Linked DNA regions of Homo sapiens. The protein of the gene in region 1 interacts with the protein of each later gene in a biochemical or structural test. Each region holds a gene or a part of one and is shown on either strand. Other genes may lie near its edges.

The links. The genes of interacting proteins can lie anywhere in the genome.
Region 2: the proteins of FOXA2 (region 1) and HOXA5 form a complex in vitro, tested with the Homo sapiens proteins (2 studies listed by BioGRID).

The regions. Positions count from the first base shown.
Region 1 is NC_000020.11:22,582,523-22,586,266, reverse strand, and holds the start of FOXA2 (hepatocyte nuclear factor 3-beta), read left to right. Parts: upstream 1-1,694; 5' UTR 1,695-1,988; coding exon 1,989-2,075; exon of another isoform or gene 2,076-2,524; intron 2,525-3,112; coding exon 3,113-3,744. UniProt on the Homo sapiens protein: Transcription factor that is involved in embryonic development, establishment of tissue-specific gene expression and regulation of gene expression in differentiated tissues.
Region 2 is NC_000007.14:27,141,662-27,145,405, reverse strand, and holds the start of HOXA5 (homeobox protein Hox-A5), read left to right. Parts: upstream 1-1,724; 5' UTR 1,725-1,798; coding exon 1,799-2,360; intron 2,361-3,320; coding exon 3,321-3,571; 3' UTR 3,572-3,744. UniProt on the Homo sapiens protein: Sequence-specific transcription factor which is part of a developmental regulatory system that provides cells with specific positional identities on the anterior-posterior axis. Also binds to its own promoter.

The sequences.
Region 1 (3,744 bases):
CTCGGGGGACCGATAGGCACGGCTTCCGCGGAGATACAGACCTTGAATTTGTGGGAGAATCCCGCCCTGGCGCTCACTCGGCGGGCTTATTAATGCCCTCTTTATGAAGTGTCCAAACCATCTGCATTTCAGCAGCAAAAGATGCTGCCGGCGGCTTCCTTCTGTGTCCCAAACCGTGCAGACCTGAGAGTCCTGGGGTTAGGGAAGTGGTTCCCCTGTGCCTACTGCTACCTCCTCGCTTGCCTTCCAGCCTCACCCTTACTCAAGCTTCAATGCGAAGCTCCGTGTCTGCCATCTCGCCTGTCTTCTGCCACCATCGCCCCCAATTTTGGACAGGTGGGCTGGATGCCCACTAGTTCCTATGCATTCTCTGTGTCTGAGGGGGTGGGTACAGGGCTGGATCCCCAAGGTCCAGCCAGGTTTTCAGAACCAAGAAAGAGCCTCCACATCCAAACACCTGCAATATCCCCCCACTCCAAATCTGGGCTCACAGGCTAACCCAGAACAGAAGACAATTTTTGAACCCAAGAGCTGCTGGGGAAATAAAAGTATACGATTGCTGGAGTTTCTAATTTCTATTAAGCAGTCCCTCTGGAAGACAGAGAGGACAGAGACGCTCTTGAAGTCAACTCCATATGCCCCATCATTGATTCCTGGATTCTTCTCTCCTCACCCCTCCCTCCCCACCTCCTGCCCTGTTTGTTTTAGTTACGAAATGCTGTGGGCACCTCGGTTGTGACTGAAAAGTAACCTTGAAACACGCCGGCCTGAATATCAGAGACAAATCTCAGCCTCCCAACCGTCGGCCGCTGCTAGAGGGGCTGCTTGCGCCAGGCGCCGGCCGCCCCACTGCGGGTCCCTGGCGGCCGGTGTCTGAGGAGTCGGAGAGCCGAGGCGGCCAGACCGTGCGCCCCGCGCTTCTCCCGAGGCCGTTCCGGGTCTGAACTGTAACAGGGAGGGGCCTCGCAGGAGCAGCAGCGGGCGAGTTAAAGGTGTGTACGTAGTTTTTCTAAATAGGACAGCGCTTTGCAAATTGGCTGTCATGGACTTGCTGTTTTGACAGAGAATGAGCACTGAGAGCGAAGAAACCCGGCATAAATAAATCCGGCTTTCATAGGGATCTGCCGGGCACTGAGGCTGGACGCGCCCTCCGACAGGCGCACCGGGCGCCCGGCGCGATGAGACGGGGCGGGGGCTGGAGGCCGGAGCCGCCCCAGAGGGTGGTTTCCTCCCAGGTCCCTCCTTCCTCAGGGGACTCGCTGTGGACCCGGGAGGAAAGGGGGCTCGACCAGGGATCCCGCGTGCCCGATCGCCCGCCCAGCCCGCTCCCCTGGCCCGCCCAGGAGTGCGGGGCGCCGCGGCGGTGGGGCGGACGGCAGGCGCTGAGGGGCAGGTGCGGAGCGCCGGCTGCGGCTACCTCTCACCTAGGTGTGAGCTGATTATTCAAATGGGCTGCCCCGGGTCTGGGGATTGGAGGCCCGCGCCAGCGCGCCGCGCTATATCACCAGCCTCCCACGTCACTGCGGCACTTGTCCGCTCCGCGGTCCACACCTCCTCCTCCTCCTCCTCCTCCTCCTCCTCCTCCTCCTCCTCCACCACCACCACCGCCTCCTCCTCCTCCTTCCTCCTCCTCCTCCCCACCCCCCCACTAGCCCCCGCGCCGCGCGCTTCCCGCCGCCTCGGGGCAGCTCGGCACTGCCAACCTCAGCCGCCACCCGGCAGCCCGTGAGCGCGGCGGCGGCGGGTGCTCCCTACCGCGGGGCGCTGGCCTGGGCCTCCTCCGCTCCTCGCCCCCCCCCACCTCCCGCCCACTTCCAACTACCGCCTCCGGCCTGCCCAGGGAGAGAGAGGGAGTGGAGCCCAGGGAGAGGGAGCGCGAGAGAGGGAGGGAGGAGGGGACGGTGCTTTGGCTGACTTTTTTTTAAAAGAGGGTGGGGGTGGGGGGTGATTGCTGGTCGTTTGTTGTGGCTGTTAAATTTTAAACTGCCATGCACTCGGCTTCCAGTATGCTGGGAGCGGTGAAGATGGAAGGGCACGAGCCGTCCGACTGGAGCAGCTACTATGCAGAGCCCGAGGTAAGCGCTCGTCTTTTCCAGGGGGAAGTGGAGCGGCGGCGCTCGCTCCTTCCCCAACCTCAGGACCGCTTCCCTCGCTGGCACCCCCCCACCCCGCCCCACAACCCCAGCCTTTCTGGGCAGCCGCCTTTTCCGCCCTCCTTGGAATCAAATGGGTCTCTTTTTTATACGACACACTGTTAGCCTTGAGATAATATTAACTTTGTGATCAAATATTGACTTGCGGCGCCTCCAAATCCTCTTCGTGGCCGAGCCACGCACTATCCTAACAGAGTTATGTTTGGCAGCGCGCGGCTGGGGAGGGGTGGGAGGTCGGCCGGCGAGGGGGTGGGGAGCTGAGGAGGAGAAGATGGGTAGGAGTTGGGGGCTGAAGTGGAGGCAGAGTCAAAGACTAGTGGACAAAGAGAAAGAAAGTTTTTGCCTGCAAAGCTCAGCCGCGTGTGGTTCAGGTCTCGGTTCTTTCCCTATTGCCCCGTTCAGTGCCTCCAGCCGCCCCCGCACTCCGCACAGGCACTGCCTTGCAGTTTCCCTGGGACAAGGGAGGGGGTCCCTGGAGGGAGACCGGACAGAGGGGGCCCGGGACAGTCTTCGCTGGAGGCAGCCCGAGGCGCCCCGCGCGTTGTCCCGCAGGTTGCTTGCTGCGACCGGAGGTGGCGTCCGGGGACTTCGGGCCTCGGCGCCAGCTCAGTATGCTGGTGGGAGAGTTTGGGGAGACTCTGGGGTAGGGGAATGTATTTGGGGTGCTGGCTTGGGAGTACTCCATGGGACCCCTGTTCTAGAATCTGGGCGAGGTGGAGAAGGGCTAGGAACGGGCCACATGCCCAAGCAGCAATCCGCTCGCCACCTTCCCAAGGGCGATCGATCATGACTCTCCCTGAATGAAACAGACTCGGAGTCCGGAGACTGGGCCATCGGGGACGAAAGGGCTCCCCGGAGGCCTCCCCGGACGCGGAGGCCTGGGCGGTGGGTGGGAGGTCTGGGCACCCTCCAGCCGCGGTGCTAACGCTGTCGCCTCCCTCCCGGGGCTCTGTCCGCAGGGCTACTCCTCCGTGAGCAACATGAACGCCGGCCTGGGGATGAACGGCATGAACACGTACATGAGCATGTCGGCGGCCGCCATGGGCAGCGGCTCGGGCAACATGAGCGCGGGCTCCATGAACATGTCGTCGTACGTGGGCGCTGGCATGAGCCCGTCCCTGGCGGGGATGTCCCCCGGCGCGGGCGCCATGGCGGGCATGGGCGGCTCGGCCGGGGCGGCCGGCGTGGCGGGCATGGGGCCGCACTTGAGTCCCAGCCTGAGCCCGCTCGGGGGGCAGGCGGCCGGGGCCATGGGCGGCCTGGCCCCCTACGCCAACATGAACTCCATGAGCCCCATGTACGGGCAGGCGGGCCTGAGCCGCGCCCGCGACCCCAAGACCTACAGGCGCAGCTACACGCACGCAAAGCCGCCCTACTCGTACATCTCGCTCATCACCATGGCCATCCAGCAGAGCCCCAACAAGATGCTGACGCTGAGCGAGATCTACCAGTGGATCATGGACCTCTTCCCCTTCTACCGGCAGAACCAGCAGCGCTGGCAGAACTCCATCCGCCACTCGCTCTCCTTCAACGACTGTTTCCTGAAGGTGCCCCGCTCGCCCGACAAGCCCGGCAAGGGCTCCTTCTGGAC
Region 2 (3,744 bases), on another chromosome or scaffold:
CACACACCCAGTCCCGCTCCACAAGGATGCCCAAACCGGCTCCGGAGTTCTGGGGTGCGCCCTGAATGCGTCTGGGGCTCCTGTGCTAGTGTCTCTGAGCTCCCCGACCTCGGGACGCGGGGCTGCTGGGGAGGAAAGAGCCCTGGGCCGAGCCCCGTTTCGTGTCTGGGCGTCTCTGCCTAAGTCCCTCGCCAGTAAGTCCCGAAGGGCATCATCAAATCATCTCTGGCCAGTGGAAAGAGGGGGTCTAAGAGCTGGAGCCCGGCCTTGTCGCGGCCTCCCAAGCCGCCTCCCAGAACAGGAAGGAAGCTCGAGGAACAAAGGGGGCCCCAACAGAGCCCAGTCTCTCGGTCCCGCGTGTGCAACCGTCAGTGGAAGAGAAGCAGCCTCAGCCGAGGCGAGTTAACCTGGGCGCGGGTGGAACATTACAGCCCGGGGTAGGCTCCCGGCTCCGGATTCCCGCTCCCAGCCTCCGATAGCGCCCGCGTCGCCGCCACAGCAGCGTTCAGGACCCAACGAGGGGCCCAGGGCCATGGGAGCCGCCAGAGTCCTGGCTTCCAGACGTGCCAGGGGCGCCTGCAACGCCGGGCCTCCAGCGGGGAGACTCCACTTGCCTCTCAGCTATATTTGTGATTTACTTGAGTCTTTCGGAGCCGTGGAAAATAACTACAGAGATACTAGGCACTGCCAAGGAATGCTTCCATTATCGCCCTCATTTTACTCCTGGAGGTCTAAGCAAGACCCCAGTAACCCGCCCCACGGATCCCCAGACCCCAGGCAGCCTCTGTGGCTGCAGGGAGCCTGGGCCCACTCGCTGGGTTCAAGGAGAACCCTCCGACTTGGGGCCCGGCTGGCTCGAGGAACCGGACCCTGTGATGAAGATTTTCCAGGCTGGATACGTAAGCAAATCAAATCGCAAACTAATGACACGAAAACCATATTCACACGAAAGAAAAATCGACTACGGTTATAAAAGTGTATGGAATTTGACCTCGCCTTGGAGAAACACTACACAAAAGCTATCTTTAATAGACGCCTGTCATTTAAGAGCGGCAGGGACACTGTCCCTCATGCGCTCGCAAAAACAGAGCCGTAATTGTAGCTGCTGCTGCTGCGGGCAGGATTTATTTCTCCAATTGGCTAAATGGCTTTCCCCCTTCCCCGAAGGTGATATCTGTATTTTCAAAATTCAGAGCTGCTGGCAGGACGGTCAGTACCGACCCCAACCTCGACACAAAAATAAGAGGGGCTGCAAAACGGGGGAAATAAAGTTGTTGTAAATAAAATGCAAGTCACCACCTCCCCCCAATCCTCTGCATCCTCGCCGGGCGCGCGATCGGCAGCTGACGGCCTAACAATTGGTACATCCTAATGGAACTGCGAGGGAAATGCAATAATTTTGCCATAATGGGCTGTAACCTCAATTCGACCCCGGCCCTTGCAGCCCCCGGTCGGAAGCTGGGCGATGAGCCCTGCCTCCAGCGGGTGGCGCTCGAGTCCGGCTGAACGGCGGCAACTGGCGGCGGGCACGCGCCCGGGGCGCGCGCGCCACCCCCCTCGCCTCCACCCAACTCCCCTATTAGTGCACGAGTTTACCTCTAGAGGTCATCAGGCAGGATTTACGACTGGACAACAAAAGCACGTGATTCGAAGTCGTACCCCATATTTGGGTGCCTACGTAGGAGGGAACCAAGTACATGTCCCAGTCATTTCCATAATTCATCATAAATTGTGCAAGGGTGCTATAGACGCACAAACGACCGCGAGCCACAAATCAAGCACACATATCAAAAAACAAATGAGCTCTTATTTTGTAAACTCATTTTGCGGTCGCTATCCAAATGGCCCGGACTACCAGTTGCATAATTATGGAGATCATAGTTCCGTGAGCGAGCAATTCAGGGACTCGGCGAGCATGCACTCCGGCAGGTACGGCTACGGCTACAATGGCATGGATCTCAGCGTCGGCCGCTCGGGCTCCGGCCACTTTGGCTCCGGAGAGCGCGCCCGCAGCTACGCTGCCAGCGCCAGCGCGGCGCCCGCCGAGCCCAGGTACAGCCAGCCGGCCACGTCCACGCACTCTCCTCAGCCCGATCCGCTGCCCTGCTCCGCCGTGGCCCCCTCGCCCGGCAGCGACAGCCACCACGGCGGGAAAAACTCCCTAAGCAACTCCAGCGGCGCCTCGGCCGACGCCGGCAGCACCCACATCAGCAGCAGAGAGGGGGTTGGCACGGCGTCCGGAGCCGAGGAGGACGCCCCTGCCAGCAGCGAGCAGGCGAGTGCGCAGAGCGAGCCGAGCCCGGCGCCGCCCGCCCAACCCCAGATCTACCCCTGGATGCGCAAGCTGCACATAAGTCATGGTAAAGCCAGCCTTTTTCTAAATCCACGCGACCGCGGGGACGCGGCTCTCGGTCCCCCCTCTCTTCTCTGCCGCCCTCTCCCAGTCTCTCTTGGTCTCATTTCTCCCAGCCCTGCGGAGCTCTCCTTGCCGTTCTCCCTCCCCTGCCTTCCTCCTTCCTCCTCTTCTTTGCGAGCACCCTGCGCTCACAAATAGTGGGGGAAATGGGCGTTCTCTGGGACAGTTTAGACGTTGGAAGGGGGAGGAAGCAAAAAACCCCTCTGGAACCCCACGCCTTGGGACGCGCTCCCGGGTCAGGCCAGCCGAGCAAGGCGCAGAGAGGTAGAGGATGGCTGTAGCAGCCGTGAATCGGGCTTGTCACGGCGGATAATTTATGAGGAGGGCTACGCTGGGGAAACAGCGTTACTAATTACAGCCCCCGAAAAGGGGCTTGGGGGAAAGAATCGAGGCGAGAGCCTGCAGGATTCTGAATTTTGGGGGCAGGAGGGAGAGAGAAGGAAAGGGAAGAAAAAGAAAACAGGCTCCCCAACCCTGCAGGCTGGAAACGGGAGGCGGCTCTCGGGGCTGGAACTTTGAGGGAGGGTGACCCGAAGGCCACTTGGGCGCTCAGGAAAGGGCCTTGCTTCCTGGGTTTCTGTGCGGTGGGCAGCCTGGGAGGGCTGTGCCTCCCGATCGGGGCGCCCGGGGCAGGGCGGAGGGGGCAGGAGAGGGGCCAGGGAAAGCCGGAGTCCGCCGGGACACGGCCCCAGCCTCAGATGGGCAGATTGTTCCCAGGGTCCAAATCGTATTGTTTTCTTTCTAGAAAGGAAGAGAGAAGGAAATTCGGGAGGGGTGTGCGGGCTGGTAGGCAGAACTTGTTGAGCTTTTCGCCTGGGTTCCCTGCTCATGACCCAAGCTTGTCCCCCTGGCGGACTTTGGAAGACAGGAGTTGGTGGCTAAACCGCTGACTTTTCTATTGCAGACAACATAGGCGGCCCGGAAGGCAAAAGGGCCCGGACGGCCTACACGCGCTACCAGACCCTGGAGCTGGAGAAGGAGTTCCACTTCAACCGTTACCTGACCCGCAGAAGGAGGATTGAAATAGCACATGCTCTTTGCCTCTCCGAGAGACAAATTAAAATCTGGTTCCAAAACCGGAGAATGAAGTGGAAAAAAGATAATAAGCTGAAAAGCATGAGCATGGCCGCGGCAGGAGGGGCCTTCCGTCCCTGAGTATCTGAGCGTTTAAAGTACTGAGCAGTATTAGCGGATCCCGCGTAGTGTCAGTACTAAGGTGACTTTCTGAAACTCCCTTGTGTTCCTTCTGTGAAGAAGCCCTGTTCTCGTTGCCCTAATTCATCTTTTAATCATGAGCCTGTTTATTGCCATTATAGCGCCTGTATAAG